Linked DNA regions of Homo sapiens: region 1 is linked to region 2. A link means that fine-mapping ties the variant in region 2 to the expression of a gene that starts in the linked region. Tissue or cell type: testis. Region 2 holds a variant in brackets; the other region holds the start of a gene. All regions are shown on one strand. Distances are between the middles of the regions.

The links. PIP is the estimated chance that this variant, and not a neighbour inherited with it, causes the effect.
Region 1: it holds the start of GCNT2, and the variant in region 2 is fine-mapped to the expression of GCNT2 in testis (GTEx, PIP above 0.99).

Annotation. Positions count from the first base shown.
Region 1 is chr6:10,518,796-10,523,941 of GRCh38, reverse strand. GCNT2 (glucosaminyl (N-acetyl) transferase 2 (I blood group)) reads right to left here and starts at 2,591. Exons shown (of 5, transcript NM_145649.5): 1 at 2,525-2,591. LOC101928146 (a long non-coding RNA gene) reads left to right here and starts at 2,536. Exons shown (of 3, transcript XR_001743961.2): 1 at 2,536-2,594. RefSeq lists enhancers at 2,245-2,304, 4,025-4,720, 4,800-4,944, 4,960-5,146 and a cis regulatory region at 4,867-4,877.
Region 2 is chr6:10,490,405-10,495,550 of GRCh38, reverse strand. No RefSeq gene overlaps it. Among named protein-coding and RNA genes, the nearest start is that of LINC02522, 11 kb to the right of the region's middle. The variant A/G (reference allele first, on the strand shown) is at 2,013.

The DNA of each region.
Region 1 (5,146 bases), 28 kb before region 2:
GAGTGCAGTGGCGCGATCTCGGCTCACTGCAAGCTCCGCCTCCCGGGTTCAGGCCATTCTCCTGCCTCAGCCTCCCGAGTAGCTGGGACTACAGGCGCCCACCACCAAGCCCGGCTAATTTTTTTGTATTTTTAATAGAGACGGGGTTTCACCGTGTTAGCCAGGATGGTCTCGATCTCCTGACCTCGTGATCCGCCCACCCCGGCCTCCCAAAGTGCTGGGATTACAGGCATGAGCCACAGCGCCCGGCCTTGGTTTTTCAAGTCTAGAGTCAAGACAACAGCAATCTCCAGGCCATGCTGGGAGGATTCTGGAGGTAGGGCACCTAACGTGCTCAGCTCAGGGCTTCTAGAGAAGTCAGAGCTAATTCCAGACCTGGATGGAAAGCTGTGGGGAAGAAGAGGCTACGAGGGGGAAATGAAGTGGGTTGTGATCGTTTAACAAAAAATAGCTGGGAAAAAAAGTAATAGGAAACTATAAGAGAAAGCTGGTCTTTTTTTTTTTTTTTTTCTTTTGAGACGGAGTTTCGCTCTTGTTGCCCCGTCTGCAGTGTAATGACGCCATCCCGGCTCACTGAAGCCTCTGCCTCCCGGGTTTAAGCAATTCTCCTGCCTCAGCCTCCCGAGCAGCTGGGGTTACAGGCATGTGCCACCACACCCGGCTAATTTTTGTATTTTCTTTTTAGTAGAGATGGGGTTTCACCATGCTGGTAGGCTGGTCTCGAACTCCTGATCTCAGGTGATCCGCCTGACTCGGCCTCCCAAAGTGCTGGGATTACAGTCATGAGCCACACCGCGCCTGGCTGAAAGCTGGTCTTTTCAAGCTCAGTCAAATAACTTTGAGGCAATGCAAGACTGAGCAAAGTTAAATAGCAGCTCAGTTACTAGGCGGAGTCGAGGCCTTAAAGGCACTTTCCGCCTGCGTTTGCACATGAAAAGATATCTGACAACTCCAGGCTTTCCAAGCCAGGGTCTCCGGGAGAAGCCAGAGCTGGAGAACCTCATTCGTTTTAAGTCTAATTTTACTGTTGCAGAAAGTTACCCTGGAGTTGAGGATTGAGTGTATTCTATAAATGGGATATTATGAGAAGCTAGAACAGCAGCCCAATCTCCGTGCCCGAGGCTTTGTTTGTTGTTTTCACCTTTCTGGATGGAGTTTTGCTCTTACCCTCCCGACCTCTATCGCTCAGAAAGTCCTTGATAGGATTTTGAAGTTACAGGAACCAAAAATTACTGCCATAGGTAGAATACTTCCACAAGGGAGACCTCAAGCTTCTGATCACTAAGAATAATTACATGAAAGAATATAGCCTCCCTTCTTCCGATAATTGCAATATGCTGTTCAATCAGAACAGAGTGCAAAGAAACAGATCCTTTACGCTGTAGGGTCCCCAGGGCCTGGGATTACAGTCTCCCTATTTCTTCTGGAAAACCACAGCCTACAGGTAACTACCCTCTATTTGGCCAATCTACTACCAGGTGCAGAAAGACTATTTACAAGTGACGACTCTCAAAGGCCTACATTTAAAAATAAGGAAAACAGAAAAGTAGCTTTGAGTTTGGCAAAACCTGAATTTACTTAGTAGACCTGTCTTTAATATCAGAAGATGGGTTTTCATAGAATGGCAATATGGATCTACTACTTTTCTACATGGCCCAGAGCTTCATTTTCAATTTTACCTATTATCAAATGAGGTTCATACCTCACAGGAATGTTCATACCTCACAGCAACTAATTAAATAAAATACATTTCAGGCTGTGGACGGTGGCTCACGCCTGTAATCCCAGCACTTCAGGAGGCTGAGGCAGGTGGATCACATGGAGTCAGGAGTTTGAGACCAGCCTGGCCAACATGATGAAACCCCATCTCTACTAAAGATACAAAAATTAGCCGGGCTTGGTTGTGCATGCCTGTAGTCCCAGCTACTCAGGAGGCTGAGGCAGGACCCAGGAGGTGGGGGTTGCAGTAAGCTGAGATCGCACCACCGTACTCTCGCCTGGGTGACAGAGTGAGACTATGTCTGGAAAAAAAAAAAAAAATTTAAATGCCAGACAGTACCAAGTACCTTATCAAATTCTGGAAACATTTTCCCTTGCCTGAAGGAACTGAGAAACATAAACCATTAAGTCTGAAGTGAACGTTGTTCTTTCCTACAAAGTTAAAAGTTGTAACTGAGATACAGAAGGATACTAATGATTTAGAGACAGATGGAAAACCCTCGTGCCCAGTAGGCCCATCATGTAATGAAACAACATACAAACATGCTATTCTTTGAAAAAAAAAAAACCTTTGAAAACAGAAATCTCATGACCAAATGACTCATTCAACATTTTTTGGTGTACTTACTTTATGCCCGGCACTGTGCTAGGTTCTGGAAATATAAAACATCCACGCAGCCCATTTGAGTACCAGCCTATTGGACCTTAAACTGCTGTCAGCGATTTAACAGAGGTAACACGAGAAGACCAGCTCCCCGCAGTTTCCTCCCTCCACCAGTTTCCCAGCACGCTGACCTCCACCTACCTCTCTCAGTTCCCAGGAGGGTAAGATTGCCCAGAGGCGTCCAGCAGTGAACACAGTAAGCCTGTTTAAGGTAAACGCAGTTTAACCCTAGCGTTTTAAGTGGAATAACAGAGGCTGGAATGTGAAAGTGGGAAGGTCTGTTTGCTTTCAGTCCCACCCCCAAGGCCTGCCCTAAGAGTCTGAGACAGGAGAACACACGTCTACAGAGAGCCTGCCTAGAGTCTGGATTTTTTAAGCTGCTGGATACCAGGTGCTACCTGACACCAGCTCATCCCCTGCCTCTAGAGTCCTGGAGGGCTTTGAGTTGATCACTTTCCACTCCAGGAATGTTATAAGAAACCGCTCAGAAAGGTAACTGCCCTGGGTGTAACTGGGTTTTTCATGAGGACACTCCAAGATAGACCTCAGGATAATTATTTGGGTGTTTTCCTAAGACTACCCTCCATTTTGCCCCCTTAGAGGCTGCTTTTTCAAGAGGGGAAGTTTTGGATTCCCTCACAGACCCCTCGTGTTTAAGGTTCCACTCTTATGTTTAGTTATTGGTAGGAAATCTTATAGTCTCTGCCCCAGGGTAACCTCTAACAGATTTAGATATGTGTTCTGCTCAAATGCTACCCACACTGGGGAAGGGGAATCCTAAGGTGGCAGCAGAATTTAGTAGAAAATGCCCTGGGCATTTTCAGAAGGCAAGTTCTCTCCTCTCTAATGCAAGCTGTATATCTTGAGCAAGTCACTTCCTCTCTCTGAACCTCTGGCTTTTCCTAGGCCAGGCAAACGGGCTCTTTACATACCCTTTCAGGAATGAACTGATTCCTGTCCCAGGAAACAAGCTAGTCATACCGTGCATTTAGCCATATCCCTCTCTTCTGCCAAACACTTTGCAGTCAGAAGCAGCTTATAAAATTCAGTGGGGATAAAGCAGGGTATGGTGGTGTGCACCTGCAGTTTCAGCTACTAGGGAGGCTGAGGCGGGAGGGTTGTTTGAGCCCAGGAATTCTGAGACCAGCCTGGGCAACATAGTGAGACATCAACTTAAAAAAAAAAAAAAAAAAAGAAAAAATCCAACTGAGTTAAAAAAAATTTTTTTCCAGTCATAAAGCCAGGATAAACTGAAGAAATAGCAAATCAACTTTTTTTTTTTTTTTTTTTTTTTGTGACAGAGCCTTGCTCTGTCACCCAGTGCAGTGTCACAATCTCAGCTCACTGCACCCTCTGCCTCCCAGGTTCAAGCAATTCTCCTGCCTCAGCCTCCTGAGTAGCTGGGACTACAGGCATCCACCACTATGCCCGGGTAATTTTTGTATTTTTAGTACAGAAAGGGTTTCACCATGTTGACCAGGATGATCTTGAACTCCTGGACTCAAGTGATCCACCCCTCTTGGCCTCCCAAAGTGCTAGGATTACAGGCGTGAGCCACCACACCCGGCCCAAATCAATGATTATTTTTCTTTTCTTTTTCGTTTTTTTTTTTTTTGAGACCGAGTTTTGCTCTTGTTGCCCAGGCTGGAGGGCAATGGCACGATCTTGGCTAACCGCAGTCTCTGCCTCCTGGGTTCAAGCAATTCTCCTGTCTCAGCCTCCGAGTAGCTGGGATTACAGGCATGCGCCACCATGCCCTGCTAATTTTTTGTATTTTTATTAAAGACGGGGTTTCTCCATGTTGGTCAGGATGGTCTCGAACTCCCGACCTCAGGTGATCCACCCACCTTGGCCTCCCAAAGTGCTGGGATTACAGGTGTGAGCCACTGCACCTGTCGTCTGTTTTCTTTTTCTTTTCTTTTTTTTTTGAGATGGAGCCTTGCTCTGTCACCCAGGCTGGAATGCAGTGGTGCAATCTCGGCTCACTGCTACCTCCGCCTCCTGGGTTGAAGCAATTCTGTCTCAGCCTCCCAAGTAGCTGGATTACAGACGCCTGCCACCACGCCCGACTAATCTTTTGTATTTTTAGTAGAGACGGGGTTTCTCCATGTTGGTCAGGCTGATCTCGAACTCCTGACCTCAAGTAATCTGCCCACCTTGGCCTCCTAAAGTGCTGGGATTACAGATGTGAGCCACCCCGCCTGGCCAAATCAACAATTCTTAAAATGACCTATTTTGAAAAGACTAAAAGAAGCCCAACTGTTTTAACAGCATTTATTTTAGAGTTTTAGGATTATGGTAAATTTTACTTTCTTCTATGTATTTTTTTCCTATTTTCCACATTTTATAAAATGGTCATGAATTATTTTTTTCTAATTGGAAAGGAACAATTTTAATGGTCGTGACTGGTTATCTTCTCCCTCATCTTACGCTGCATTGTGTGTGTTGGGCCCAGATCTACAATTCAACTTCCTCATGAGCGCATGAGTCAGCATTTCTTCATGGCCTGTCATTCTGTACTGTTTGCAAAAGTATGAAAAATAGAGACCAGCCCATGGGAATTTTGCTGGAGAGGTAAATAAAATGCTCCATACAATTCTATACCTTTTACCAACCAAAGAATAAAATCATCAAATATCCAAGTATACATCAGTATTTTACAAACCCAGACTTTAGTGATGAAGGTAGGGAAAAAAGGATGACTGTCCTGGAGATTCAAGACGGGGTCTACTTATTGGGAAAGAGCCAGTTAAGTCAAATCAT
Region 2 (5,146 bases):
AAAAAAAAAAAAAAAAAAGGGTGAATTTGGCCAGTGTAGGGTCATGAGGGCTGTGTGCTTGGGGGCAGGTTATGGACCAACTGCTGTGTAAGCCTGTTGCATTTACAAAGTAGGCAATAAATCATACAGTTTAAAAAAATCACTTGAGAGAATGCACTAGAGCAGATCATACTTATACACATGCACGCACGCATGCACACGCATGCACACACACACATGCACGCACATATTCCAGAGAGTAACATGAAGTTTTCAGAATCTAAGGATTCCAGGTGTTTCCTGCTTTCACCGCCAGGGAAGCAGAAATGACCGCTGTTAAACAGACATCCCCTGCAAGAAGTCCTCAGCGCTAGTTCGACGCATTTGGTACACAGCAGAGAGAGACCATGAGCCCTGGGTGCTATCACAGAACTATAGCCGTGCATGGCTTTTGCAAAGGCGATTCCAAAACAACCGAGAAAACGGTAGAAGCAAGGCTGTACCAGGCTTTCTGCTGCCGACCACACACTTTCAAAAATCAATGACTGCTGCTGTTAACAGGCACTTATTAAGGGTGGCCCGGACCTTAATGATCACTAAGATCCTCCCAGGAAGAGCGACTATCACTTGAGTAACTACTGAACTTCATCCAAATAAATTTCCCATCCCACTACTAATGTTTTCATGCAAAGAACCAAAGACTTTATATCTTTTTAAAAGTAAAAAAACAAAACCAAACCAAAATCCGACATTGGCGATGCACACACAGGTCTGAGCAGGTTTCCCTTGTTACCCACTGTGGTTCGGAGCCGCAGTACCTTTGTCGCCTTCCTGCCCAGTTACTTTACTGCAAGGGGGACCGTAATCCTTGACGCCACCTTTTTGCGTTCCTTGTGGAAACAGGCGCTGCCCCGACTACATGCTTTTTCCACGTCGGAGTCGGCGCAGCAGCTCCAAAGCCTTCCAGTCCTCACAGACTCAGCAGAGCTGGCAGGGCCAGCGGGCACCACTGAGTCCCGCGGAGCCAGGCCCAGTCTCTTTGCTTTACTGACGCAAATGTCTGCGGAACTTTTTTTTGACTTGACGTCTATGGTAAGATAAATGCTACCACCACTAAAGGTAGCAAAGAAATGGCCTGGTGACCTTTCAAAAACCTTTTGCCAGACTTTTTCAAATCTCTGATTTCGATTCGGGCAGAGAGGGAGAGCCAAGATTCTGGGGTAGGCTGCCCAGACCTAAGAGGTAGGAGACGGTCTCTTAATGTTTAAGAGGGGGACGTGGAAATGACATTTTTCTCAAGGCAAGTTTGCACTTGGGGCACGATCAAACTTGTGCATGCACTTCACTCAACAATGCTTTTTGCACTATAAGGCGACAGTGGTTGATGTTTTGAGAAGGTGAGGCCCTGGGAGTTGGGTGCAGGTATATCTGGTTTTGATTCTTTCCCCTCCCCAGGGTTCTCAGATGCCAGCTGAGGTCTCATCCATCCACACAGCAGTAGGAAACCAAGGTCCTAATGCTCCGGGATCAATGTGAACTTGTGTGTGTGTGAGAGAGAGAGACGGAGTCTCGCTCTGTCTCCCAGGCTGGAGTGCAATGGCATGATCTCAGCTGACTGCAACCTCCGCCTCCCCCCTCCTGGGTTCAAGCAATTCTCCTGCCTCAGCCACCCAAGTAGCTTGGATTATAGGTGTGCATCACCATGCCTGGCTAACTTCTGTATTTTTAGTACAGTTTCACCATGTTGCCCAGGCTGGTCTTGAATTCTTGACCTCAGATTATCTGCCTGCCTCAGTCTCCCAAAGCGCTGGGATTACACGCTTCAGCCACGGCGCCCCGCCGTGAACATTTTAGTAATCCATTGCAGAGTTCCATGAAATCCGTTTAACTGGCTCATTGGAATTGATAAGGATTATCTATTGCATTCAAGACTAAGACTGAACTCACGGTGGCCACTCAGAGCTACCAAAGACCACCCTGGTGCGATGAATCATGTTTTTGACCCCCGTAACCAGTTCGTTTCAAGCACCACT[A/G]GAGAAAACGGGTCCATTTAAACTTCAGGACTTTTTTTCCGCCGTTCCTCATTTTTAGTCGTCATCCACAGATTTTCATTCTTTCCAAAAGCATGTAAACATATTTATATGGAGGTGAAGACACCAGCTCACATGACATGGATGCAGCACTGGTACATAAACTTATTTACCAGGCACAATGGCTCATACCTGTAACCCCAGCACTTTCGGAGGCCAAGGCAGGCAGATCACCTGAGGTCAGATCGAGACCAGCCTGGCCAACGTGGTGAAAATCTTTATTAAAAATAGAAAAATAGGCCAGGCAGAGTGTGTCACTCCTGTAATCCCAGCACTCTGGGAGACTGAGGTGGGCAGATCACAAGGTCAGGAGATCAACAACATCCTGGCCAATGTTGAGAAATCTCATCTCTACTAAAAATACAAAAAAATTAGCCAAGTGTGGTAGTGGGTGCCTACAGTCCCAGCTACTCAGGAGGCCGAGAGAGGCAAGCCACTTGACCCCGGGAGGCAAAGATTGCAGTACACAGAGGACACCACTGCACTCCAGCCTGGGCAACAAAACCAAAAATGATCAGTAAATAATTTGGCTGGGCCTAGTAGCACATACCTGTAATCCATACTTGGGAGGCTGAGACAGCAGAATCGCTTGAACCCGTGACATAAGCCACAGTGTGCCAAGATAGTGCCACTGCACTCCAGCCTGGGCAGCACAAGTGAAACTGTCAAAAGAAAAAAAAAATCCTCTATAGTTTTCACAACTGCGTGTGGAATTAGTGGGTTCTCAGTCTGACTTCAAGCATGAAGCTGTGGACCCTCACAGAATTACAATTGTTAAACATGTGACCCCAGTTTATTTCTTCTGTTCAGATGTGCTCAAAGTTTCTTCTCTCTGGTGGGTTTGCCTCTTTTGTTTCTTCTCTATAGTGGGTTCGTGCTCTTACTGACTTCAGGAATGACATTACAGATCTTCACATTGAGTGGACTGGGAGCATTACACACCTTCCTAATCTCACTAACTTAAAAACTGAAGCTACCTACTTTCCCACTGAGTGCTACAGCTTTTTTTCAGAATCCCGCTGCTTTAACGACCAAAGCTACAGACAGAGATGGTAAACCTCCCAGCTCTTAAGCATAGAACACCTACCGTGATTCATCCCACCCAGTTGATTCTTTATTCACTACTTCTGGCAGAGTAGTAATCTTAGTCTATAACTGAAGCTACAGACTTTTACTATTAGTCCTGCAGATCAAAAAGATAACACAAACCCAAACAACAAGTCTATAGCAACACAAAGAACAGACGTAAACCAGTTATCCTTATTGATTCAGGCAGCCTGCTTTTATTCCCTTATCTGACCCCACCCACATCCTGCTGATTGGTCCATTTTACAGAGAACTGATTGGTCCATTTTACAGAGTGCTGATTGGTCCATTTTACAGAATGCTGATTGGTCCATTTTTGACAGGGTGCTGATTGGTGTGTTTACAAACCTTTAGCTAGACACAGAGTGCTCACTGGTGCGTTTACAATCCTTTAGCTAGACACAAAAGTTCTCCAAGTCCCCACAAGATTAGCGAGACACAGAGTGTTGATTGGTACTTTTACAAACCTTTAGCTAGACACAGAGAATGCTGATTGGTGAGTTTACAATCCTTTAGCTAGACACAAAAGTTCTCCAAGTTCGCACCCCTCCCAGAAACCCAGCCGGTTTCACCTCTTACCGGCAGGCGCTGGGGCACTTTGCAGCACCCAATTCGGGCACTCTGGCAGCCCAGAGGGAGCTTTTTCCCTAGTCAAGCCCAGCAGACGTCAGTTGACAGTGAAGTTCGGCGACTGCCGAGACCGCGCGCCGGCCACGAGCGCCGCGCGCAGCCCCGGCTCCCGCCCGCGGCTCTCCCTCCACACTCCCTGCGAGCAAAGGAGCTGGCTTCAGCCTGGGCCAACCCCAGAGAGCGGTTCCCACAGCGCAGCGGTAGGCTGAAGGGCTCCTCAAGCACGGCCAGAGTAGGCGCCGATAGCGAGGGAGGGCTGCTGGCACATTGTCATTTCTCGGTTCCACGTTACAATTGAGAAAATGGAGGCAGGTGAAGTCAAGTAACTTGCCCTAAATCAGAAAGTGAGAGATCTGTTTTGAATCTAAGTATCCTAATTTCAATGCCCATGCGCTGTTGATTGACCACACTGCCAAGTTCCACCCAGCCACCTTGACCTTCCACAAGAACCTCAGCCCAGGGATGACAGGGCCTGCAAGAAATCCCACCACTAGAGGCTCTGAATTCCATGTTGGCATGGGAGTTACCAGTTACACTAGAGTCAGACTTGTTGAGTTTGTGCCCAACAATAAAGTGTCCGCAAACCTCACTTAACTTCTGGAAGCTCTGATTTCCTTATCCATTGAAGGGAGATGCTGGCTGGGTGCGGTGGCTCACGCCTGTAATCCCAACACTTTGAGAGGCTGAGGCGGGTGGTTCACCTGAGGTCAGGAGTTTGAAACTAGCGTGGCCAACATGGTGAAACCCCGTCTCTACTAAAAATACAAAAATTGGCCGGGTGTGGTGGCACGTGCCTCTGGTCCCAGCTACTCGGGAGGCTGAGGCAGGAGAATCTCTTGAACCCAGGAGGCAGAGGTTTCAGTGAGCCGAGATTGCGCCACTGCACTCCAGCCTAGGTAACAGAGCTACACTCTGTCTCCAAAAAAAAAAAAAAAAGGGTTGGGGGGTGGCGAGATGTTACTAGTATTCCACTTGTAAGATAGTTTTGAATATCAGGTAAGATAAAGCATAGTAAATCCAGGTCTGTCTATTCTATACCGCTCAGCTCTGAGCAACCCCTGCCAGTAGGTAATGAGAAACCAAGGCAATTTTCCCTGGTTTTGTGCTTCCAAATAGTCTTTTTATTTTATGGAATCTTTCAAAAACTTTAGGGAAATATAATTGTCTGATTTCTAAAGCCATTTGTTCATTCATTCATTCATTTCACAAGAACACATTGCAAGCCCAGAGCCCCTCGTTTAAAAAAAAAAAAAGCCTTCAATTTAACACAGATGAACAAATGAAGTCTAAGGCACTGGGTGGTCAGCATCTGAAGGTGGGGCCTGGACAGAGGGTCTTAAAAGTAGTGGTCCTCAGCCTTT